Homo sapiens: one gene and its partners. The protein of the gene in region 1 interacts with the protein of each later gene in a pairwise test. Each region holds a gene or a part of one and is shown in the gene's direction. Other genes may lie near its edges. The genes, in order: RFX6, DMRT3, DGCR6, CYFIP1, DTX2, ESR2 and PRKAA1.

Region 1 (3,420 bases):
AAAGATTAATATGACCTGTCAAATGCAGTCTAAAACTGTAAGTTTTAAAAGGGCAGTAATAATATCCTTTTCTCACTCTTGATTAGTGTTGGACCCAGTTGTAGTGCCAAGAGATATCTTTAGGCCTCATGATCTCCATCAGTATCCAAAAATCACTCCAAGATTAAAAAAAACTGGTGTCCTGTGATGGGTGCTACTAGCATTTTCTCATTCTTATGTAAAATGTGATTCAACACCTCTGTAGAAAATGTTGCCATTTTTATTGCTCTCTAACATATCATGTAAGTAAAAATAAGAAAAACGTGTGCTTGCCGTGAAGCCTCCTGGAATCTTCTTCCAACCAGGTTACATTTCTTAATCCTCATCTATGAAGAAATTCTGCAATAATAATTAGTATGTTATTAGTAATAACATAGATTTAGTCACTATAGATTTAGTTTCTAAAAATACTAATAAGATTTCACAGGGCAAGTATATATTCACTAAGTATCAAAGCAGAGTGTTAATATTTATATGAGATGGTTAAAGTCTTCCAATGAGATTGATTTCAGACTAGCATAAGTAGAGGGCATTGACACGCAACCAGAGCATAAGGGAAAATGAAATCAATTTCATCTCTCCTCACTCAGTGTACCTTCCCAATAATTCAATAGGAAGTACTCCTTCTCTTCCTGTCACTGTCACACATGCTCCCTGAGCAGAATCTAGCAGCTCATCTTCTGCTATCTGCAAATGGTCATTGCTTCTAGGTTACTCTAATGAAGCAGAAAATTCCACTTCAGGAAGTTTTCTCACCATGAGACTAAAATGTACTGTGTTGCTATTGTTACTATTAGTTCTGTTTACCTGAAGAGATAGTGGAAGCTTTGACGAAACATAGGTTAAGAGTAGGGTGGAGTCTAAGCTTTAGTTTATCAGAGCTGGCTTACAAGTAGATTACAAAGTGTGCTGCAGGGTAAAATGAGGGGATAGAATAAGTGGATAAGTAGTGCAAGGAGAATTGAGTTCAACTATTTCTTAAGTATAAAGCCTGGTTCTTAGACAGAGAGCACGTCATGTCAGCAATAAGAAGGCAGCAACCATATATGAGAGAAATACAGGGCTAGTGAGCCAGTTAATGAATTTTATTGAGAACCGACTAGGAGCCAGACCCCATTCTAGATGTGAGGATATGGTGGTGATCAGGCCATAGTTCTTGCCTGTAAGAAGTTTACATTCTAGTAGAGGGACAGTAAGGCAATAAATACATGAGCAAATGCATTAAAAAGATAATGTCAAGTACTCTGAACCTGATTAAATAGAGTAAAATGACAGACAGTAAAGGAGGAGCTGCTTTCGGTAGGACAGCTGAGAAAGGAATCCTGAGGCAGAAACATTTGAGTTGAAAGCTGAGTGATGAGAAGGAGGCAAAGATGTGAAGATCTGAGGGAGGAGTTCCAGGCAGAAGAAACAGTGAATGCAGAACCGCTGAAATCAGAATAAATTTGAAAAAATCAATGGGCAGAGAGCAGGCCAGTGTGTCTTAAGCATGTTGAATGAAGGAGAGAGTAGAGCAAAATAAATAAAAAATCAGGGGCCCATCTACATAGGGTAAGATGCTTGGTTCATGTTCCAAGGGTATCGGAAGCCACTATGGCATTTGAGACGAGTGAAAGTTTGATCTACTCTTCAGCAATATCATTCTGGTTGCTCTCGGGAAGGTGAGTGGGTGAAACAAAGGTGGAGATCATGGGACCAGTCAGGAGGCTGCTGTGTTGGTCCAGGAGAGAAAAGATGGTGGTTTGAACTACAACCGTGAAAGTGCAGATGGAAAGAGGAGGTTGATTGGGGGATATATTTTGGCGGTAGCACTTAAGTTGAAATGGAGTTTTCTTTGTGAAATATGTAGAGGAAATAATTTCTGGGAGACTAGCAAGTGGGAACAAATGGAAGAAAAAATGATTGCTCTGGTAAACCATACAGACTCAAATTTAGAATAGGTATGTGTGCTAAGTGCAAAAATAAATACAGGGTATTAAAATGAGTGGCATTTGCAGAGAAAAGAAAATGTCAATCAATTTTCAATTGCTGATTATATTTTCCCTTACAGCTTCCAGTTTGCAAACCCCAATTCCTTCTTCCTCATCCCAATGTATGTATGGAACTTCCAACCAGTATCCAGCTCAAGAAACCCTGGACTCCCATGGAACAAGCAGTAGAGAAATGGTGTCCTCTTTACCACCTATCAACACTGTGTTCATGGGAACAGCAGCTGGAGGCACTTAAACCACCAATGTGGGAGGGGGTGCTAAAACTTTAAAAAAAATCTCTACTGTGCAAATATCATTATTCACTCAGACTTCCATAAGAGTAAATAAAAATGAATATGCAGTGGCTGACATTGTTTTAAAGTCACTGGTACTATGGACAACTCCATAGTGAATGGAGATACTTGCAGAGCTTGTCATGCACACTAAGAGTTTAAAATGTGAGCTCATTATTAATCATAGTTTCAAAATTATCAAATAAAACCAGTGAAGATCTGAAGATGCAAACATTTCAACTATGAAGATTTACATTTCACTTTCTAATTTATTAAACATCTGTGTGCCTTTTTATCTTTGGTTTCTTTTAAAAAGTATATTTAATGCCTTTACAATACCTTTAATTTATTAGGATCTCAGAATCATTGTTTACTATCCCTTATTTGACAAAAAGTCAAATGTGTATGTTCTACCTCCAACGGAAATGTTTACAAGGTCAAGACTTAATTCAATTCAGACAAGACCAAAGTTGCTTGACTTCAATTCCTGTGCATTAGTGTGATGATTTCTGTCACATAGCAGCATTCCGATTCTATGTAACTGAATGGAGATGATAAGTGCTTTCCCCTCTTTATTTAAAAAAGATTAAAAGGAATAAAAGAAATAATGTATGGAAATATTTTTAAAGGCTTGGTGCTCTTGGGGCTGGTACTGTTTCTGAAGAATGCTGGGGATTTACTCTTTAATCTCAGCTCCTTTGGAAATGAGATTAAGGAGTCAAGTAGTGTGGTTAAACACTATAATTTAAAAACATTTGCATATCATATCCATGCCTATACATATAAAGAAATTGTGAATTGTAGACTATTTGAACCTTTTCAGATTTAGAAGCAGTCTTTTACCAAGTACTTTCTTATACATTGAAAGTCAATGAGTGTTCAGGGATTAGCTAGATGCAAAGCCTAATTCAGAAGTGAAGGAATCATTACATATAAATTAATACAATTTGATAACACTATCTATCTTTCTACCTCTGTTTCTTTTTCTTTTCCATATGTCTTCACTGAAAGGTCTGTTGTAAAGTTCCTGGCCTGTGGTAGGAGACTTCCATAAACTTTACAGGCTTCTCCTATAGTCTTATGACAAGCCTCATATTATTTGTATTAAGGATTAGGTT
Region 2 (3,500 bases), on another chromosome or scaffold:
ATAAAAGGCACAATCAAGTACCAAGTAACAATAATAATAATGAAAAACTTAAGAGTCGGCACATCAATTCTTTACAAAATCTCCAATCTCTTGATTACAACAACTAGGCAGACATAAATTTTACAGAGCTGGGATTAGTGTTCCACGTTTTTCCCACTGATTATTACTTTGTTTAGTTCAGTATATATCTCTAGCACCCATAATCTTTATATGTAAGCATTTAAAACAATATTTCCTCCTGTGAAGACACCATGGTCTGCCCAGCTGCTATCCTTGGAATTATTTGCTGTATTTCACTGTGAAATATAACCAACTGCAGCTTACTTGGAATTTTGCAAAAGATTAGTTAGTAAACTGTATGCCTCTCAGTGGTCAAGAGGCAATGCTTTGATCATCTCTGTATGATCTTACCCAGCACAGTACATGAGAGCATAGTAAGGCATTTAGGGGCATTTGTTAAATAGATGGATGAGTTAGACAGGTGCATTTTGGAAGGTACCAAATAAACATGTAGATTTGTAGGTAATTTCCCCTCTGCTTCTTGGAAGGTATTCCCTTCTGAGTCAAGAAAGAGATCAAAACTAATTTTTTACAAAATATGTGAGGTCCACAGTTGCAAACCATACTTCCTTCAGCCCAGTCCTGTCTATAGCAATATTCCCCCAAAATATAGTGTCAAGGAACCACTCTGATTCCTTCATACGTTATTAATTCAGTGTTGTTAATGATTTTTTAAAAAGTAAAGCATGGCTAGTTTTTTTTTTTTTTTTAACTTTTCACAACCCTCCCCAACCCGGCAATCCACCCCAGGAAGAAAAGGAAAGTTTTTAGATCGAGATCATTCCCTGGTGTTCTTTAGATTTTCAACTATTCATTTTTTTAAAATAATTCATCACTTCTAGTGTGAGATGAAGGTAAGAGAAAATGTGAAGCGTTTGTCTACGATTAGAATTCTGATTAGGCAATGGTCTCCTGTAAAAGTCTCATCCTGCCTGGGCTCCCTCCCTTGCCATTGTTGTAAGATTTATGTGCTTTGAAAACTACCCATCAAGGACCTGTTATTTACAGGTGTGTTCCCCACAGCTCAAGTGAACAGATGAGGATATGACAATCTATGTTTCAAAATGCGTGACATGATTTCAAAAGGGATGGGGGAGTCCAGTGACTTTTGAGCTAGGAAATATTCCTCTCTGCTCGAGTTTTTCTGTGTTTTCATTCTGTATGTAAGAACTATTTTGTTTTCGTAGATATAATTGGATAGAATGGATATAACCTATGACATCTAAGTCAGAAAGATTTTTCACATTTTTTTTTTTTTATTTAGACAGTCTAATTCTGTCGCCGCAGCTGGAGTGCAGTGGTGAGATCTGCAGCTCACTGCAAGCTCTGCCTCCCGGGTTCACGCCATTCTCCTGCCTCAGCCTCCTGAGTAGCTGGGACTACAGGCACCTGCCACCATGCTCGGCTATTTTTTTTTGTATTTTTAGTAGAGATGAGGTTTCACCATGTTAGCCAGATGGTCTTGATCTCCTGACCTCGTGATCCACCTGCCTCGGCCTCCCAAAGTGCTGGGATTACAGGTGTGAGCCACCGCGCCCAGCCAGATTTTTCACTTTTATGCATCGTGAGCAGAATGTTTGTTTCTCATATGTGGTAGACTTTCTCAAAGTATTTGAAATAATACATTTTTTTTTTACTAAATTGCATTTTTATGTGAAAAACTCCCCTAAAGAAAGTTACATTTTCAAACTGTAATTTTAGATTGAAAGCACTTTTGTGAGTGTTTATTTTCTCTCTTTAAAGTCTTGTAGCAAAAAAAGAAAAAAAAGTATTGTAGTCATCTTATGGCATATATATTTTGAAGTCGGTAGCATTGTTATCTGTAGAAAAACTTTTCTTTTTAATTGAATATCTACTTCTTTTAAAAACCTCTTTACCCTAGTGCACAGTTTATTTCAGGGATAGCTATAAGTGTTTCTACCCCATGAAATATGAAATGGAAGAGAGAATATTAAGATTTTAAAAATATGTACATGTTTAGCAATAGAAACAGCATATTGTATCACTTTCAGTAATATTTGTCATATTCGATAAAATTGATTTCTTCCCTGTTTAATAGCTTTGACTTTCTATACCCATCTACCGGGGTAAAAATATTATCAGTTGATATACACTCTTAATGTTCTAGGAATTAGGGTTTCAGTTTCAAGAAGAAAGAAGGTAAAATGTTTCAGGAGTATTTCCTATTTTATTTTGTTAGTTGGCAGTTTCACATTTCTATGTCTAGAAAGGCCTTTATGTTTTAAACCAACTAGAATGATTTGTAAAGTTTATTTAAGAACAAATCTGGAGATGTAAAGAAGTACCTGTTATTAAATTACACTTTATCACTGGGCTCAAAACTCACCCTCTATAATTACCTGTGAAAGTCTGTATTTATAATAGAATAATTTACAATATATTTAGTTTAGGTGCAATAATACAACCAGTACTAGACACCATAGCGCCACAAAATTGCAGGAACTATATATCCTGCCCTTCAGAAATTATTGTTTGGTGAGGAGTTATTCTTGGTGCAAAGTTAGAGGCTAGTCTTCCTTTGCCTAGTTTTGAAACTCCAACAGCCTTACATGTTGATGGGGATTTGGCTCACCCAGCACTACTTAGCAGGACCTTGTGTGCGGCTCAGGTGCATAAGCCTCACAGGTGTGCTCTGCTTGTTCTTTCATCATCTTTGTCTTTCCTTTGAACACAGTGTAAGCAGTGCTGAGCTCAGCTGGTTGGTTGGTTTACGCTGAATTTGTAGATTTGATTCCTGTGACATTGTGTTAGCTTTTCTCATATTTTGGCTATAGCCAGACGGCACAGAGACCTGCGGAGAGAGCATGGAGGATTCGGTGTAATCTATCACCACTCCTTGACAAGTAACCAGAAGTGCATGATGCACTAGCATGTCCCAGTAGCAGGGGCAAAGGGTAACACAACAAAATGAGAAAGTGACTTTCACAGTCTGAGAGTTCACAATTGCTGAACAAGCTGGCACTGACATAAGATTCCACTACCGTCTGTTCCGCAGAACTTAGGAAAATAGGTACAAGAGTGGAATTTTATATTGTCAGACTTGTAATCCTGGTATCAAGTATTCAGTTGATTGGGACAGTATATCTGTTGCTACCTTGAAAAAAAAAAGCCTCCATTTTTGTAATGGTAGAGTCATTATGTTAGTGAGAACCTCATTCCCTAATTCCCCTTTCAGTTAGCCTTCTGCTGTTTGATCCACTTTTTTTCTGGAGACTGAAGTGTACTGTGGAAGAGTCAATTTGGTTGACAGACCTGAGAAAACACTTCCTAATATGTTTTCAGTGTTTGAAACTTATCTAAAGTGGGGGCAGGGGATGTACCTTTTAAAACACAAAGCTATTTGGTTCATATATTTCTTTTAAAAATAGTTGAGCTGGCCGGGCGTGGTGGCTGACTCCTGTAATCCCAGCACTTTGGGA
Region 3 (3,269 bases), on another chromosome or scaffold:
ACGTTTTGTTGTGGCCAGGGACCCCTCCTTCCTGGGGAACTGTAGCCATTTGGCACTTAATGCACTGGCGCCAGCTGCGGGGTGCTCCATGTTCCATTTTGCCATGATGGTTTATGTCCCATGATCGCTTCCTCTGTACACTCCCTTCAGACTAGAGTTTGCACATCTGTGTTTGTGCACAGTTTAGCAGGGACCGTGGAGCTTTGCTTGGTGGCCGAGGGTGAGCCCCTCAAAGCCACACAGACTCCCTGGCCCAGAGCCTCACAGGCTTATGACACCCCAGGTTCATCCCAAACTTGGGCCTCCCAGGTCAGCTCACCCTTCTCCCTCTGGTGCTGTGTAGGGGCTGGGAGCTGCAAATGGGGGAGGGGGCTGCCCACCCTGAAGGGCAGCACCAAGGGTGGAGGGGCCAACCACACACCTGGTAGGCAGAGGCCCCACGCTCAGGGTCAGCGACCCGGCTCCTCCTGCTCCTTTCCCATGCCTTTGCCTGAGGTGGTCTCCAACACTTGAGTAGATGTCCTATGGCCTGTGGCCACGGGGGCCCTGAAGCCCTCAGACTGCAGCCTCCCTCCCGCCTGCCCCCTCCAGCTGCCCTGGGTCTGGGGCTGCAGCTTTGGCCCCACCTGGCCAGTCTTCCCCACCCCCACTCTCTTTCAGTGCCCCGCACCTTCTGGAATCCCCTGGAGACTTGCCGTGACAGTGGGGTGGGAGGATGGAGGAGGCTGGCGTCCTCCCCAGTGCAGACACCCCTTTGGCCTGGCTGCTCTGCTGGGTTGGTAAGGCAGGTGCCCATGGGTGAGGGCTGCTGCCGAGTCCCACCGCCTGCTGACGGGCTCTCATCCCTCCCAGTGCTCAGGCAGGCGCTGCGGCAGAAGCACCAGGAAGCCCAGCAGGCCTGCCGGCCCCATAACCTGCCTGTGCTTCAGGCGGCTCAGCAGCGAGAACTAGAGGTACTGGGGACGCAGGCAGGGTGGCCGGCCCAGCTCTCCTGTGGGCACCACCTGGCTCTGCTGACTGGGCTGAGCTGAAGGGGTGTGGGGGGCTCAGGTGTGGGTGGCTACCCTGGGCCTGAGTGGGACACTGGAGGCCTAGTGAGTCCCACCAGGTGGCTCCTCGCTGAGGGTGCCAGGTGTGCTGGGACTGGGTGGAGGGTGAGAACCCACCAGTGCTCCCCTGGAGTCCATTAGTGCCCCTCGTGGGTTGGGGTCTCCGCAGAGCAGGTGGCCTCGGGGGGTACAAAGGCAATGGTGGGGTGATGGGGCCAGCCAGGAAGGGGCCCATCCTTCTCCCCGGGAGCACAGGGACAACCAGAGACCGGCATGTAACCAACAAGTCATGGGGCAGGGTGTGCCTGCGGAGATGTGTGTGTGGTCCCAAGGCAGTCCCAAGTCAAAGCATTCGTGGAAGCCCCTTGGGGCCCCCTTCAGGGGTTCACTTGGCCGAGGAGAGGCCTGGGTGTGGTGAGGATGCATTGGTGGTGTCAGAGCTGGTGCTGTTGGGGACAGCAGCAGGAGCATGTGTTTGAGCTGCCCTCACCTCCCCCGCCGCCCCCGGCCCCACGGCAGGCGGTGGAGCACCGGATCCGTGAGGAGCAGCGGGCGATGGACCAGAAGATCGTCCTGGAGCTGGACCGGAAGGTGGCTGACCAGCAGAGCACACTGGAGAAGGCGGGGGTGGCTGGCTTCTACGTGACCACCAACCCACAGGTCAGTGCCTGGGCCTGCTCTGTCCTAGCCCGAGTGCCCCTGGGCCCCATTCCATCTGGGATTTCACTGCTGGTCCCTGGGGAGCCAGGCTCAGGGTATAGGGGGTGAAGTGGAAGGATTGAGGCTCTGGAAAGGATTTCTGTGCCATTCCCAGCATGGAGGCCAGGCCCATTCCCTACAGGGGGGTGAGCCAGCCAGCCATGGGCACTGCCCACCCTCCCCAGGCCTGCTGTGCCCCACAGGGCCCTCTTCTGCTCCCCTCCCGCATGCCATTCCAAGTGGCCCTGCTGGGTGCAGAGGCTCAGATTCCGAGTGGCCCTGCTGGGGGCAGAGGCTCAGATTCCGAGTGGCCCTGCTGGGGGCAGAAGCTCAGATTCCACCCTGTCGTAGCAGGCCATGACCAGGCTTCACAGGATGGTCGCCCCGTGGGCTCACTGCCTGGCACCTTTGGGCCGGGATGAAAGGGGCCTGGGGGTCACTCTGGCCTTCATGGGGCCCCTCTGTATCCCAGGAGCTGATGCTGCAGATGAACCTGCTGGAACTCATCCGGAAGCTGCAGCAGAGGGGCTGCTGGGCAGGGAAGGCAGCCCTGGGGCTAGGAGGTCCCTGGCAGTTGCCTGCTGCCCAGTGTGACCAGAAAGGCAGCCCTGTCCCACCATAGCCACAGGCAGCAGAAGTCTGGGCAGAGTTCATCTTCTTGACCTTTGGCCACTGCCTTCCCAGCTGCCCGCAGGGGGTTCCCCCTGCTGAGGAGAGACCAGGTGGACCCCAGCTGCCTGTCACCCTTCATCTGGGACTTGCTGTCAAACCCTAGGATAGTCTCATAAAGGGGAGGCTGGGCCAGCCTGCTGCTGTCTGCTTCAGGGCCAGGCAGAGAGTGAGGCTGGGGGTTCTCACACCTTACTCCACCGGGCACATCCCAACCTGCACTGGGGCCCACTCGAGCGCTTGTTCTGGTCTCAGCCGCTCCCTTGGCAGCTGCAGCCCCCATGCAGAAGAGGCTCCCAGGCCCAAGCTCTGTGTGACCCAGAGAAATAAAGATGCCTCAGTGTGGCCCGCATGTGGCTTGTGTGATAGCTGCAGGTTCTGCCATAACCGGGGCCCTGGTAGGGCCCCCACCTCTGTTGCAGCAGAGGCCTCTACCTGGGGGCCCCTTCCTGGGCTGTGTGCCCAGCCCACCACCCCTCCCCCTGCCTGGAGACTGGGACCCTCCAGCCTTTCCTGCCCCAGCCCTGGTCCCAGGATGCTGTCACTGCCATCTGTACAGGGGCCCCCATCCAAGCCCCAGGGCATGAGGACCACATCCAGCCTGCTTTGTGGGGCTGGGGGCTGGAGAGCATGGGAGAAGGCCCGAAGTGCAAGTATGCGCCTGCCGCAGCCTGGTCAGTGTCCTGTGGGAACCACTAGGAGGAGCCTGATGCAGGTCACTGGGGTAGAGGACTCAGGGTGGCAGGAATGGCCTGAGGAGGAGCCCTGCGGGGAGGCGTGCCAGGCCCACCTGGGGAGCTTGGCCTCTGCATCTGCATGAGTCCCCTCCGTGCTGGCCTGGGCCCATGGGCC
Region 4 (3,500 bases), on another chromosome or scaffold:
GATCTTTTACAATTGAGTTGTTTGAATTCTTTGTATATTTTCATTATTAATCCCTTATTAGTTATATGGTTTGCAGATATTTTCCTGCATTCTGTAGATTGTCACTTTGTTGATTGATTCCTTTGCTGTGCAGAACATTTTTAGTTTGATGTAATCCCATTTGTCTATTTTTTCTTTTGTGGCCTTTGCTTTTGAGGCTTTATTTCCTCAAAATAAGCCAGGCACAGAAAGACAAGTACTGCACGATCTCACTCACATGTGGAATCTGAAAACGCTGATGCCACAGAAGAACAGAGCAGAATGGTGGTTACCAGAGGCTGGGGTGGCTGGCGGAAGGGGAGAGAGGAAGATGTTGGTCAAAGGATACACATTTACAGTTAGATACAAGGGGGAAAGTCCAGAATAGGCAAATATACAGAGACAGAGAGTAGACAGGTGATTGCCTGGGGCCAGAAAGCAGGGGAGAGAGGATCAGTGAAGAACGGGTAGAAAAAGTGAGAATAACTGCTAATGGTTAGGGAGTTTCTTCTCCCTTTTTTTTTTTTTTTTTTTTTTTTGACAAGGTCTCGTTCTGTCACCCAGGCTGGAATGCAGTGGGGCAATCATGGCTTACTGCAGCCTTGCCCTTTTGGGCTTAAGCAATTCTCCCACCTCAGCCTCTCCAGTACCTGGCACTACAGGTGTGCACCATCATGCCTGGCTAAATTTTGGTTGGTTGTTGTTTTGTTTTTTTGAGACGGAGTCTCACTCTGTCGCCCAGGTTGGAGAGCAGTGGCGCGATCTTGGCTCACTGCAACCTCTGTCTCCCAGGTTCAAACGATTCTCCTGTCTCAGCCTCCTGAGTAGCTGGGATTACAGGTGTGCACCACCATGCCCGGCTAATTTTTGTATTTTTAGTGGAGGCAGGGTTTCACCATGTTGGCCAGGCTAGTCTCAAACTCCTTACCTCAAGTGATCCTCCTGCCTCAGCCTCCCAAAGTGTTGGGATTACAGGTGTGAGCCACCGCCTAATTTTTGTGTTTTTTTGTAGAAATAAGGTTTCACCATGTTGCTCAGACTGGTCTCAAACTCCTGAGCTCAGGTGATCCCCCTGCCTGGGCTTCGCAGGGATTATAGGCTAAGCCACCGCACCTGGCCACATTTAAGTCTTTAATTCATTTCGGGTTGATTTTTGTCTATGTTGAGAAGCCAAGGTCTGATATTATTTTTCTGTATGTGTGTATCTAGTTTTCTCAACACCGTTTATTGAAGAACCTATCCTTTTCTCATTGTGTGTTCTTGGCACCTTTGTTAAAAATCAGTTGGCTGCAAATGCATGCATTTATTTCCAGGCTCTATTCTGTTCCATTGGTTTATGTGTCTGTGTTTATGACAATAGTGTGCTGTTTGGGTTACTATATCTCTGTAGTTTTTTTTGTTTTGTTTTGTTTTTGAGACGGAGTCTCACTCTGTCACCCAGGCTGGAGTGCAATGGCGCAATCTTGGATCACTGCAACCTCCGCCTCCCGGGTTCAAGCGATTCTCCTGCCTCAGCCTCCTGAGTAGCTGGGGATTACAGGCGTGCGCCACCACACCCAGCTAATTTTTTTGTTTTTAGCAGAGACGGTGTTTCACCATGTTGGCCAGGCTGGTCTCGAACTCCTGCCCTCAGGTGATCCGCCCACCTCAGCCTCCCAAAGTGCTGGGATTACAGGCGGGAGCCACCATGCCCAGCCTCTGTAGTATATTCTGAAGTCAGGTAGTGTGATGCCTCCAGCCTTGTTCTTTTGCTCAGGATAGCTTTTGCTATTCCAAGTCTTTTGTGGTTCCACACAAATTTTAGGATTTCTTTTTCTATTTGCATGAAGAATATGGTAGGTATTTTGATAGAGACTGCATTGAATCTGTAGATTGCATTGAATCTGTAGATTGCTTTGAATCTGTAGATTGCATTGAACCTGTAGATTGCATTGAATTTGTAGATTGCTTTGGGTACTATCTATTGTTTATTTATTTTTTGAGATGAGTTACCTAGGCTGTTACCCAGGCTGGAGTTCAGTGGTGCAGTCATGGCTCACTGCAGCTTTGATATCCTGGGCTCAAGCGATCCTCCCACTTCAGCCTCCTGAGTGTCTGGGACTACAGGTGTGAGCCACCACGTGCAGCTACTTTTTATTTTATTTCTTTTCTTTTTCTTTTTTCTTTTTTTTTTTGAGACAGAGTTTTGGTCTTGTTGCTCAGGCTAGAGTGCAATGGCGCAATCTTGGCTCACCGCAACCTCTGCCTCCCGTGTTCAAGCAGTTCTCCTGCCTCAGCCTCAAGCTACTCAAGCTGGGATTACAGGCGCCCACTACCACGCCTGGCTAATTTTGTATTTTTAGCAGAGATAGGGTTTCTGCATGGTGGTCAGGCTGGTCTGGAACTCCTGACCTCAAGCGATCTGCCTGCCTTGGCCTCCCAAAGTGCTGGGATTACAGGCATGAGCCATCACGCCCAGCCTTATTTTATTTTTTAGTAGAGACAAGGTCTAGCTGTGTTGCCCAGGCTAGTCTTGAACTCTTGAGCTCAAGTGATCCTCCCACCTCATCCTCACAAAGTGTTGGGATTACAGATGTGAGCAACAGCACCTGGTCTATTAATTCTGTTGTTGCCAGTGTTTTTGGTGTCATATCCAAGAAATCATTGCCAAATCTGATGTCATGAAGCATTTCTCCTGTTTTCTTCTAAGAGTTTTATAGTTTTAGATCCGATGTTTAGGCGTTGATCTGTTTTGAATTAACTTTTCTTTTTTGTGTGTGTGTTTGGTTTTTTTTCGAGACAGATCCTTGCTCTGTCGCCCAGGCTGGAGTGCGGTGGCGCAATCTCGGCTCACTGCAAGCTCCGCCTCCCGGGTTCAAGCGATTCTCCTGCCTCAGCCTCTCTAGGAGCTGGGATTACAGGCCCCCGCCACCACACCCAGCTAATTTTTTGTATTTTTAGTAGAGACGGGATTTCACCGTGTTAGCCAGGATGGTCTCGATCTCTTGACCTTGTGATCTGCCCGACTCGGCCTCCCAAAGTGCTGGGATTACAGGAGTGAGCCACCACGCCAGGCCAAATTAACTTTTCTGTATATTATATAAGGTAATGGTCCAACATAATTCATGTATGTGTGGATATTCAGTTTTCCTAACACAATTTGTTGAAAAGACTATTCTTTTTCCATTGAATGATCTTGACATCATTGTTGAAAATTGTTTGGCCACATATGTGAAGGTTTATGTCTGGGTTCTTTGTTCTGTTTAATTGGCCAGTATGCCTTTCTTTATGCCAGTGCCACACTGTTTCAATTACTGTAGCTTTATGGTAAGTTTTGAAATAAAAAGGAGTGAAGTCTCCAACTTTGTTCATCTTTTTCAAGATTGCTTTGGCTATTCTGGGTCCTTGGAGATTCCTATGAATTTTAAAATGGGTTATTTTTGCAAAAACAAAGTGCTGTTGGAATTTTCAAAGGGATTGCATTGAGTCTTTAGAAGGCTTTG
Region 5 (3,500 bases), on another chromosome or scaffold:
GGTTTGGTTTGGTTTTTTGTGAGACAAGAGTCTCGCTCTGTCACCCAGGCTGGAGTGCAGTGGCGCTAACCCAGCTCACTGAAGTCTTGAACTCCTGGGCTCAAGCAATCCTTTCACCTTAAGGATCCTTAAAAATACCTACTGCTGGCCCCCACACCCATTCTGTTTTAGCAGCCTGGCTAGCAGGGTTTTCAGAAGCTCCACAGGTGGCAGGATTTTTTTTCTTTTTTCTTTTTTTGAGATGGAGTCTCTCTCGCCCAGGCTGGAGTGCAGTGGTGGGATCTCGGCTCACTGCAACCTCTGCCTCCCAGGTTCAAGCAATTCTCCTGCCTCAGCCTCCCGAGTAGCTGGGATTACAGGTGCATGCCACCACGCCCGGGCAATTTTTGTATTTTTAGTAGAGATGGGGTTTCGCCATGTTGACCAGTCTGGTCTTGAACTCCTGACCTCAAGTGATCCATCCGCCTCGGCCTCCCAAAGTGCTGGGATTACAGGCATGAGCCACCGTGCCTGGCCATTTTTTTTTTCTTGTTATAAGAGACAGGATCTTGCTCTGTTCCCCAGGCTGGTGTGCAGTGGTGTAGTCATAGCTCACTGCAGCCTCCAACCCCTGGGCTGAAGCGATCCTTCTGCCTCAGCCTCCTGAGTAGCTGGGATTACAGACACATGCCACCATGCCAGGGAAGTTTTTTATTTTTTGTAGAGACAGGGTCTCACTATGTTGCCCAGGCTGGTCTTGAACTCCCAGGCTCAAGCCGTCTTCATGCCTTGGCCTCCCAAAGTGCTGGGATTCCAGTCATGAGCTGCCACGCCCAGCTGAGGTTATTTTCTAACTTCTGGAAAGTTCGAGGTATGTAAGGAGGTGGATGGCGCCATCGTTGTTCACAGGGTGATGTGGCGGAATTCAATAATGAGTTGGTGTTTTAGGGGAGTTGCTGTCATAGTGGCTGAGAGGGGACAGGCCTGGAGGTAGGGCGGCTGGTGCAGAGCCTGACCTCAGACCTGGGGGCACCAGCCAAGGCCTGACCAGCTTCGAGGCAGTGGAGTGGAGGGGGAGGTTTGGCTTGAAACATTCAGAGGCATGAGCCGTCAGGCGGGGGGTTGTGAGGGGGGATTGGGGGTAGACTGAGGCCTGCTGGAGTGCAGCCAGTCACAACTGAGGAGCAGCCTGGGGCTTGGCGTGTGTGAATTCATTTCGTCCTTAAATCACTGAGGTGGAGGCTTTTGTTCCCATTTTCATTAGAGGAAACTGAGGCTCGGAGAATTTAAAAATTCTCTGCCAGCCCTTGGCAGAGCTGAGACACAGCCCCGGGCCTTCTTGCCTATGACGGTTCAGTGCTGCTGAGTCTAGGGGGAGGTTGGGAGGGGGTGATGGCTGTGGAGTGGCCGTTGGAGCTGTTCCGGGGCAGTGGGATTTGGCTGTGGGCCTCAGAAGAGCAGTCTTGGGTGGAATGGGGTGCCCCTGACCCCTCGTGGGAGCGTGTGTGCCACAGAGACCGTGGGCAGGACTGAAGAGAAAATGAAGGAGCGGCCAGAGAGGTGGGGGCAGGAGGGAGAGGAGCTGGAGTGGGGCAGGGGAGACAGAATGAGCAAGACACACTGGCCAGAAAGTCCCTGCCCACTGAAGTCACCGTGCGGCGCCGTAGGGAAATCACAGTGTACCGTGTGTGCATGTGCGGCCGTGGTGGCATTGGAGACAGGTTGTGGGTAAACAGACGGGGCCCCCACACGGTTCCTCATGGCCCAGCTCCTTCCAGTTCTGGGGCTCTCGCAAGCCTTCGTGGCCAGGCCTGACAGTGAGCGACCTCTGAGGCCATGACACAGATCTAAGTGCTCTGGGTGTGGAGTTAGCACCTGCCCCCTTCCTCTGCTCTTGAGGCTGAAGGTCCTGTCCAGGCTGTGTCCCAAATTGTCCATCCTGTTGTCTGTCCCCGTTGCTCTCAGAGCAATCCTGGAGCTAAAGCAGGTATTTTAACATCCATTTTACTTGTGGGGAAATAGATTCGGGAAGCTGGTTCAGGCCTAAGGAAATAGGAGAGCCTGGAGGCTGTGTAGACTCCTGCCTCCCCCAATTCAAGGCCCAGTGTTGGTACCTACTGGGGGAGCATTGTCTAGGGGAGCAGGGAATGAGAGGAGCCTGGCCAGCACCCCGGAGCCAGAGCTGGAGAGCAGTGTCCTGTCACCCTGGTGTGCTTGTGGGTTGAGGAATTATACCATGCCCGGCTGCGGAGACGAGCGTTTGCGCACAGGCTTTTTGCAGAGAGGTTTATAACCAGGAGGTCATGCTTTGGAAGGACTGAGTGCTGGAGGCACTGCTTCCAGGTGACAGTGCCTCCAGGTGACAGCTCCCCTGGCTGTGGCATAGCCCAGTCCCTCTATCGGGTGGGGGCAGGGACTGTGAGGCTGGAGCCAGGGTCTCCACCCCTCACCTGGTCACAGCAGCGGTCCATCCACAGCTCACACTGCTGCCTGGGGCAGGGATGGGTGTCAGCAGCCTGCCCAGGACTGCTCAGCTGGTGAGGGCTGGCACTGGGCTCGAACCCAGGCTGGGGAGGTCAGAGCGCACAGAGGAGAGGCTTGGATCTCAGCCCTGGCCCTGGGTGTCAGAAGGAGGGGTGTCTGCAAATTGGAAGTGAGAATCAGTGAGTGGGGGCTTCACTCTTCAGGGCTCTGACAGCGGGAATCCTCCCAGATGGGTGGAGAAAAAGGCTGTGGCCCTCCGAGTTATTCAGGTGTTTTGGGGGCTGTCAGGAGTTTGGGGGGCTGTCCCTAGCCCTCCTCCTCTCCAGGCTTCTGGGTTGAAACTTGTGTGTTTGTGACTTGAATTCAGGGGAGTGGGTCCTGCATTGAAAAGGACACGTGTGTCACTCATGCGGCCTCCTGGGGGCTGGTGGTGGCCCAAGGATGTCTTCATTCCTCAGCAAACACAGAGGGCTGCAGGCTTCCCAGGGATCAGGCACTGCCCCAGCGGGGTGCTGGAGATGCAGCTACGGGTGGGACCTCGTGGAACTCGTGCTGAGGGAAGACAGTCCATAGAAACAGAGGGGAGTGCAAAGCAGGAGTCCAGCAGGGTGGGGCGGGAGGCTTGGAGGGACAGGCCCCGTCAGGCAGTGTTCAGGGAAGGCCTGCCCGCTGAGGCAGTGTTGCCGGAGAACCCTGGGTAGGGAGACGTGTCCTGGCCTTTGGTCCTCCCAGACGACGTGGGCAGCGCAGAGGCACCAGATTCTCTTGAGGAAAACTGCACCTGTCCTTGTCCTCTCTCATCTCTCTGCCACCCGCGCCCGCTTGTCCTTCTCTCCACCCGACATTCAGTTCCCACAGGAACCGCATTTGAGCCCAGGAACAAGCTTGGGATGTTGGGGGCATTGAGCTCCCGGGCTCAAACCTCTGTCCTCTGATGCACGCTTTGGTGTCTCCTGCTGAGGGCCACTGCAACTCACCCTGCCCACCTCGGCTCTGCTGCCCAGGCTGGTGGCTGGTCTCCGCTTCTGTCCCCACAG
Region 6 (3,500 bases), on another chromosome or scaffold:
ACAGTATGACTAGTTTGAAAGTGAAAGGTTTGTCAGATGCTAAATAGAATTTTGTAAATTATTGTTCCAGTAGAGAATCAATATTATGTACATAAATGAATATGTATGGACAAACAGAGTAAATCAGTGGTTGAAGTTACACGAATCATCAATGGGCCCATAAACCTGGAATGCCATCAAGTTAAAAATGAGCTTAGTTACTCATGAGTTGTCACTTGGAACCTGCGTTTTCCATCCTCCAAAGTGATCACTTCTCTCAAGCCCATTTGTAATATATATCTGAAGTGCTGTATGATGCTAAAATTACCAGCTAATTATCATTTGACTTGGTGTTTCTGTGGAGGAGTGAATCTAGGATTCTAACCTAGAGTGGCAACACCCCACGATCCCCCTGTGACAGCTTCTCCATGCTGTTCTTTACAGTCCTTGAAGAAATGAAGTCTCTTATAAGTTCTGAGCCACTGGGGGCATTCCCATGGCCTGGAGGGCAGCGACTGCACTGGGCAAGCTGTAAAGATGAGGAGGGGTGAGAAGCTGGGGGAAGAGAAGTTTTGGGTAAAGAGCCTGGGGAACTGAGGCCTATGGTGACAGTATCATTTGGGGACTTTTGTTGGCCTGGGCCCATTTCTTCTGAGCTTCCTGAGGATTTTTGGTTTCTAGTTGTATTTTGTTTTGTCTAGCATCTTCACCTTTGCCAGAATTATTTTATTTTCTCTGCTTTTTCCCAGGGGAGGCAATACTGATGCACTTTCCTCTAGTTTTTGCTTTAAATGTATTCCAAACACGATTTTGCAGGACCACACATGGAGAGCAGTGGTGAAATTAATTATTGCTGAAAGCTGTGCACCTTCTTTGTGCCATAAGAAATCTGAACTCTTAAACTGCATTATTCCTTATTCAAGCCTGGTGTTTTGAAAAGTTTTCAGGAAACGTAGACATAATCTGAAGGCGTGATTTTTTTTCTCCTCTCTTAGCTGGCATAGTCATTGTCCAAACCAAAAAATATATATTAAAATATCATCTAGCCTTGATCTTGTTGAATATCTACAAGATTAAGAACCGTGATCTCTCTTGGGTAGGCTTATTGTCAATCACTATGGGTGAGACTGGGAAGGTATATACACATTAGGAACCTAAACTGAGCAAAGCATGTGGATTTAGAAAGTATTTATCCATCTTTACATTCATAACACCATTACATTCTCCTTGAGGCAGATTTGCGTTATAATTGTTCAAAGACTTGAACCATGTGTGTTCTCTCTGCTGTAGTTTCCTCATCTGTAAAACAAGAATGATAAGAGATCCTGCCTATAAGACATTCTCAGAGATAGGCATTGTTACCCCCATTTTCCTATAAGAAAAACAAAGACTTAATGGGAGATTAAGTGAACAGCTAGAAAGAGGCTGAGCTGGGGTTCGAACCAGAGTCCATTTCACTCCAAGGCGGTGTCTTTTGTTATCATATTTATATTACATGGCCCTCTCTTTTTATCATGGCTTGTGAAGGAAGCCCCGGTGTTCTCTGCTTTGCTTTTGAAGTGCTTCCCTCCCCAGAGATTACCTGTTTGCAAACAGTACTGTGACCAACATGGGTTATTAGGTTGTCAGGACCTGCTTCGTTATTATATTTGCTCTTTATTTATTTATTTATTTATTTATTTTTGAGACAGGGTCTCGCTCTGTTGCCCAGGCTGGAGTGCAGTGGCGTGATCTCAGCTCACTACAGCCTCGACCTCCTGGGCTCAGGCGATCATCCCACTTCAGCCTCCAGAGTATCTGGGACTACAGGCACCTGCCACCATGACCAGATAATTTTCTGTAGAGATGGGGTTTCTCCATGTTGGCCAGGCTGGTCTCAAACTCCTGGGTGCAGGCAATCCACCCACCTTGACCTCCCAAAGTGCTGGGATTACAGGTGTGCTTGGCTATATTTGCTGTTTAGGATAGAATCACCCAGAAACAGTGCTTCTACCCAGAAGAAGGATCTTAACACTGGATAGGAAATTTTAATCAATCAGAGAAATCCTTGCAGTTGAGGCCTTGGTTTTCTGTGAGGGCTGGCACTGCTCTCTGCAAGCCTCCAACCCCAACCTCCACCTACCCCATCCCCCACCTACCCCATCCCCCACCCCTTCTGATCCCAGTCAAGGATTGGGTCAGACAGGCAGGTCTTCTGACTGGCAGCCAAGCATCAACATTCTCAGTAGTGCAGAGGAATTATCAGGACACAGCTAACAAAGATCAGTTCTGAGCCGAGGTCGTAGTGCTTGACAAACTCTAAATGAAGTATATTTGTCTCTAGAAGGGGTCCAAGACTGGAAACTAAGTTGCGCAGCTTAACTTCAAAGTTTTCTTCCTTTAATGAGCAGTTAATCACATCTATAAAATATCAACTCCCTAATGGTTTGTGTTTTCTTAGTGTTTTAACACTTGCCATTCTGTCTCTACACACACAGGGAGCTGAGGAGGAGGGGTGGGGGTGTCTCACCGCCTCTTGCTTTCCCCAGGCTTTGTGGAGCTCAGCCTGTTCGACCAAGTGCGGCTCTTGGAGAGCTGTTGGATGGAGGTGTTAATGATGGGGCTGATGTGGCGCTCAATTGACCACCCCGGCAAGCTCATCTTTGCTCCAGATCTTGTTCTGGACAGGTGAGAAAAAATACATTGTGTTTCTTCTCTGACTTGTTTGAGTAAGGTGCTTAGTGAGTGGGAACAAAGTCCTGGGTGCTGCAATTAAAATCTCACACTTGCAGGGCAGAGGATGATAGCATCATCAGCTCCTTCACTGGGTCAAGAACCAGAGAAGGAGAGAGTTGGGTCCAAGGATTCAGGGTCCTGTGACTCATTTTTAATCTGTGGTGCAGCAGCATTTACAGGCCAGCGCTTTAATAGGGGACTGTATCCCGTAGGTATGTGGCCACTATGTGTATAAGTCGACACAGATTTTTCTCCATTAAAAATTCCATTTTCAGGTTATAATCTTAAGTTGTCCTGCTGTTTTTTGTACCTATAGTGACCAATTATATCTGGAGCTTTCTGGACAGGTGATAAAATTCTTAGAAATGTGCCAAGTTTATTTTCACATGCTTTAACTCACTCTTTTGTTTTTTTTTGTTTTGTTTTGTTTTGTTTTTTGTTTTTTTTCTGAGATGGAGTCTCTCTCTGTTGCTCAGGCTGGAGTGCAGAGGTGCAATCTTGGCTCACTGCAACCTCCGCCTACCGGATTCAAGTGATCCTGCTGCCTCAGCCTCTCAAGTAGTTGGGATCACAGGTGTCCACCACCATGCCAGGCTAATTTTTCTATTTTTAGTAGAGAAGTGGTTTCACCATGTTGGCCAGGCTGGTCTTGAACTCCTGACCTCAGGCGATCTGCCCACCTCAGCTTCCCAAAGCGCTGGGATTACAGGCGTGAGCCACCATGCCCGATCTGCTTTAACACATTCTAATGCATGTACTATATAGCATTTTTGGCAATAGCGGTGGAAGGAAGGGTTACTAAAACT
Region 7 (3,500 bases), on another chromosome or scaffold:
TCTCGAACTCCTGATCTCAGGTGATCTGCCCGCCTCGGCCTCCCAAAGTGCTGGGATTACAGGCATGAGCCACCGCTCCCGGCCATTAATTTTTGTATTTTTTAGTAGAGATGGGGTTTTGCCATGTTGGCCAGATTGGTTTCGAACTCCTGACCTCAAGTGATCTACTCGCCTCGGCCTCCCAAAGTGCTGGGATTACAGGCATGAGCCACTGCACCGGGCCAGAATATGTGTAAATATATTATTAATCATACTTAGTACTAATTTATTAAATTACTTCTTTTACAGTTGGCAAACATGAATTGACTGGGCATAAAGTAGCTGTGAAGATACTCAATCGACAGAAGATTCGGAGCCTTGATGTGGTAGGAAAAATCCGCAGAGAAATTCAGAACCTCAAGCTTTTCAGGCATCCTCATATAATTAAACTGTAAGCTCTGTTTATATTAAATATAGTCCAGTCATCTTTTCATCTTTTTTGTTAACCTACTTAATGTGACAAGTGAGAAAAATGACTGACACTTCTTTTTGTTTCCTAAGGGTTTTGAAAAGTTTCTTCCTAGGCTGTGTGCGGTGGCTCACACCTGTAATTCCAGTACTTTGGGAGGCTGAGGCAGGCGGATCACCTGAGGTCAGGAGTTCGAGACCAGCCTGGCCAACATGGTGAAACCCTGTCTCCAGTAAAAATACAAAAATTAGCTGGGCATGGTGGTGGGCGCCTGTAATACCAGCTACTCGGGAGGCTAAGGCAGGAGAATGGCTTGAACCTGGGAGGCGGAGGTTGCAGTGAGCTGAGATCGTGCCATTGCACTCCAGCTTGGGCAACAAAAGCGAAACTCTGTCCCAAAAAAAAATAAAAGTTTCTTCCCATTCATGTATTTTTCTAACCCCATTGATGGTCATTTAAGCCTGTGTTCATGTTTTGCCCTTGTGCTTATCAGCTGTTATCTTCTCATTCTTTCCTGTCTCCTGGAAAGATGCTCTTCTGGTAATGTTTGGTGCCCCATTGCTGTAAAACCAACAGTGATCTGCTAGTAAAAACTCTTGACCTCCAAATGCCCACATGATGTCAGTTAGCCTCACTAGTGAGAATGCGGTAGTAGAAAGGGTTTTTCCCCATCCTGCTTATACCTGAACATATAGATAACAAAATTTCAGGAATCCAAGGTTTCAAAAGGGCAGTAATCTTACTGTTGTTTTACAGTTGCCAGTTATAGAGTCTACAAATAACTATTTCCTGCTCAGCTTCTGCTTTGTTATGCAGGCAATAACTTAAAGATGCTTAGGTTTTTCTCCTGAACTGGCTGACTCAAACTTGTTTCACTCTTACCTCTTCTCATTTGTTGAGTGCTAGGTTTTAAATACCATCCATATGCTGACCACCCCTAAATGTACATCTCTTGCTTTAAGATCTCTTCTTACACCAGACTTATTTGCTCACTGCTGACTTTACATTTCCATTTGGATGTTCGCAAGACATTTAAAACTCAACCCGGCCCAAAATGAACTCTTTATTACTCTCCCAAACCTGCTCTTCCCACAGTTTTCACCATCTTGGCTAACAGCCAATGACCCAGGGCTAAAACTTAGGAACCATTTTTAACTTCCCTGTTTCTTTCACTTTCTACCATGCATTTCATTTCTTCCTTCACAATCAAGCTAGGATTTGATTGCTTCTCAGTTCCTTTATTGCTGTCAACCTGGTCTCAGCCACCATCTGTCTCATGAAATCCTGAAGTAACCTCCTGTGGCTACCTTTACTGTTGACAGTTAATTCTTCACATTGCTGCCATAGTTTTACTTTTAATATGCCAGATCACATGACTGCTTAAAACGTACGATAGCTTTTCATCTTCCTTGGAGTAAAAGCCAAAGCCTTATCATGGCTTGTAAAATTCTGTGTCTTCTGGCCTGCAGTTAACACCTTTGACTCTACATCCTATTTCTCTCTAATATTCCTCGAACATGCCAAGCAGGCTTCTACTTGGGGACCTTTGCAGTTGCTATTCCCTCTCCCAGTTTCGCTTTCCTCCTAGATAATTACATAATTTGTTCCCATTCTTCTTTTAGGCTCAGCTCAAATGTTACTTTATTAGAGGCTTTCCTTTAGCACTCTGTATACAAAGATTCCCCTTCATTTGCTTTATTTTTCTTCATAGCATGTTCCACCACCTGAGATATTGCTTATTTATTTAGTGTCTGTTTCCTGGTTCCTGGAACATGAACTCCATGAGAGCAGAGAATTTTTGTTTCCTGCAGTTTTTCTAGCTCCTAGCCTAGTACCTGGTATACTATAGGTGCTTAGTAAATATTTATTGAATGAATGAATATATGTGTTTTAATATTTGTAGACAATGTTTTCTCTCACCAGGTACCAGGTCATCAGTACACCATCTGATATTTTCATGGTGATGGAATATGTCTCAGGAGGAGAGCTATTTGATTATATCTGTAAGAATGGAAGGGTAAGCTGTTCTGCTTTAATTCTGTATGTATTTTGTAACTCCCCTTTATCCTTTACTAGCATCAAAATGTCAGCAACCAATTTTAAGAGGTCTATTTAATAACCAGTTCCCTTAGTCATATATTTGTTTAGAATCATAAACTATGTAGAACTAGAAAGGATCTTAAAGATTATCTCCTTAGCCTGTTTATACAGATGTGGATACTGAGCCTCGCGGCTTATATGATTGCTCACAGTAACGTGATTTATTAATGACGGAATTGGCTTGAGCCCCCAGAACTCATAATCCTCAGACTTATGCTTCCAGGGTATACAAATACTTTGAATATGTATCTTAATGTAATTAATCGTTACAAAATATATTATTATTACTTAAAGATCTAGGCCTTGCTAGTCAATTCTAGCCACATTTAAATTGCATTCATTTTTTGGTTTCAGAAATCTGATGTACCTGGAGTAGTAAAAACAGGCTCCACGAAGGAGGTAGGAATTAGATATAAAGAATTTACAGCTGGAAGGAACTTTGTAGGACATTTTGAACACTACCTTAAGTTACAGATACAAAAACTCAACACTGCCCTCTGCCCATACTTTTTCTCATACCCAGGTTATGTGGTATGCAAAAGCCCCTTTGTGGGAGAGCTGTAGCTAGCCCTGAAAAGAGAGCTTTTCTCTCAATTTTAAGTTATTTACATTACTCATTCATTTGTTCTATATAGCATGTCTATTTACTTTTATCAAAATCAAACTTATTAACCAAGTTAATTTTGATTTTACTATTTCTTAACATGATTCATTTCTATTTCAGGTACTCCCCTTTACTCCTGCTTCTCCTTACCAAAAAAAAAAAAAAAAAAAAAATTCTGCCTGGAGAAATGGGAAACAGGCACAATTGATATATATTTTTCTTATCTTTTCTGTTGTTGTTTATTTCTTGGTTTTACCTTGTGGGTATTTCTTCAGTTTTACCAGTTGAATATTAAAATTTCAGCACCCGTATTTTCTATTTCAAAAGTTTCTTATTTTCTGAAATTTT

What was found.
Region 2: the proteins of RFX6 (region 1) and DMRT3 interact in binary tests that used the Homo sapiens proteins (3 or more experiments, as listed by UniProt).
Region 3: the proteins of RFX6 (region 1) and DGCR6 interact in a two-hybrid assay, tested with the Homo sapiens proteins (one large-scale study listed by BioGRID).
Region 4: the proteins of RFX6 (region 1) and CYFIP1 interact in a two-hybrid assay, tested with the Homo sapiens proteins (one large-scale study listed by BioGRID and IntAct).
Region 5: the proteins of RFX6 (region 1) and DTX2 interact in binary tests that used the Homo sapiens proteins (3 or more experiments, as listed by UniProt).
Region 6: the proteins of RFX6 (region 1) and ESR2 interact in a two-hybrid assay, tested with the Homo sapiens proteins (one large-scale study listed by BioGRID and IntAct).
Region 7: the proteins of RFX6 (region 1) and PRKAA1 interact in binary tests that used the Homo sapiens proteins (3 or more experiments, as listed by UniProt).

What each region holds. Positions count from the first base shown.
Region 1 is NC_000006.12:116,929,242-116,932,661, forward strand, and holds the end of RFX6 (DNA-binding protein RFX6), read left to right. Parts: intron 1-2,089; coding exon 2,090-2,265; 3' UTR 2,266-2,920; downstream 2,921-3,420. UniProt on the Homo sapiens protein: Transcription factor required to direct islet cell differentiation during endocrine pancreas development. Specifically required for the differentiation of 4 of the 5 islet cell types and for the production of insulin.
Region 2 is NC_000009.12:983,155-986,654, forward strand, and holds part of DMRT3 (doublesex- and mab-3-related transcription factor 3), read left to right. Parts: intron 1-3,500. UniProt on the Homo sapiens protein: Probable transcription factor that plays a role in configuring the spinal circuits controlling stride in vertebrates.
Region 3 is NC_000022.11:18,909,320-18,912,588, forward strand, and holds the end of DGCR6 (protein DGCR6), read left to right. Parts: intron 1-660; coding exon of another isoform or gene 661-779; intron 780-852; coding exon 853-953; intron 954-1,568; coding exon 1,569-1,709; intron 1,710-2,220; coding exon 2,221-2,370; 3' UTR 2,371-2,769; downstream 2,770-3,269. UniProt on the Homo sapiens protein: May play a role in neural crest cell migration into the third and fourth pharyngeal pouches.
Region 4 is NC_000015.10:22,970,369-22,973,868, reverse strand, and holds part of CYFIP1 (cytoplasmic FMR1-interacting protein 1), read left to right. Parts: intron 1-3,500. UniProt on the Homo sapiens protein: Component of the CYFIP1-EIF4E-FMR1 complex which binds to the mRNA cap and mediates translational repression. In the CYFIP1-EIF4E-FMR1 complex this subunit is an adapter between EIF4E and FMR1.
Region 5 is NC_000007.14:76,492,709-76,496,208, forward strand, and holds part of DTX2 (probable E3 ubiquitin-protein ligase DTX2), read left to right. Parts: intron 1-3,500. UniProt on the Homo sapiens protein: Regulator of Notch signaling, a signaling pathway involved in cell-cell communications that regulates a broad spectrum of cell-fate determinations.
Region 6 is NC_000014.9:64,256,372-64,259,871, reverse strand, and holds part of ESR2 (estrogen receptor beta), read left to right. Parts: intron 1-2,456; exon of another isoform or gene 2,457-2,507; coding exon 2,508-2,646; intron 2,647-3,500.
Region 7 is NC_000005.10:40,774,375-40,777,874, reverse strand, and holds part of PRKAA1 (5'-AMP-activated protein kinase catalytic subunit alpha-1), read left to right. Parts: intron 1-288; coding exon 289-430; intron 431-2,371; coding exon 2,372-2,465; intron 2,466-2,902; coding exon of another isoform or gene 2,903-2,947; intron 2,948-3,500. UniProt on the Homo sapiens protein: Catalytic subunit of AMP-activated protein kinase (AMPK), an energy sensor protein kinase that plays a key role in regulating cellular energy metabolism.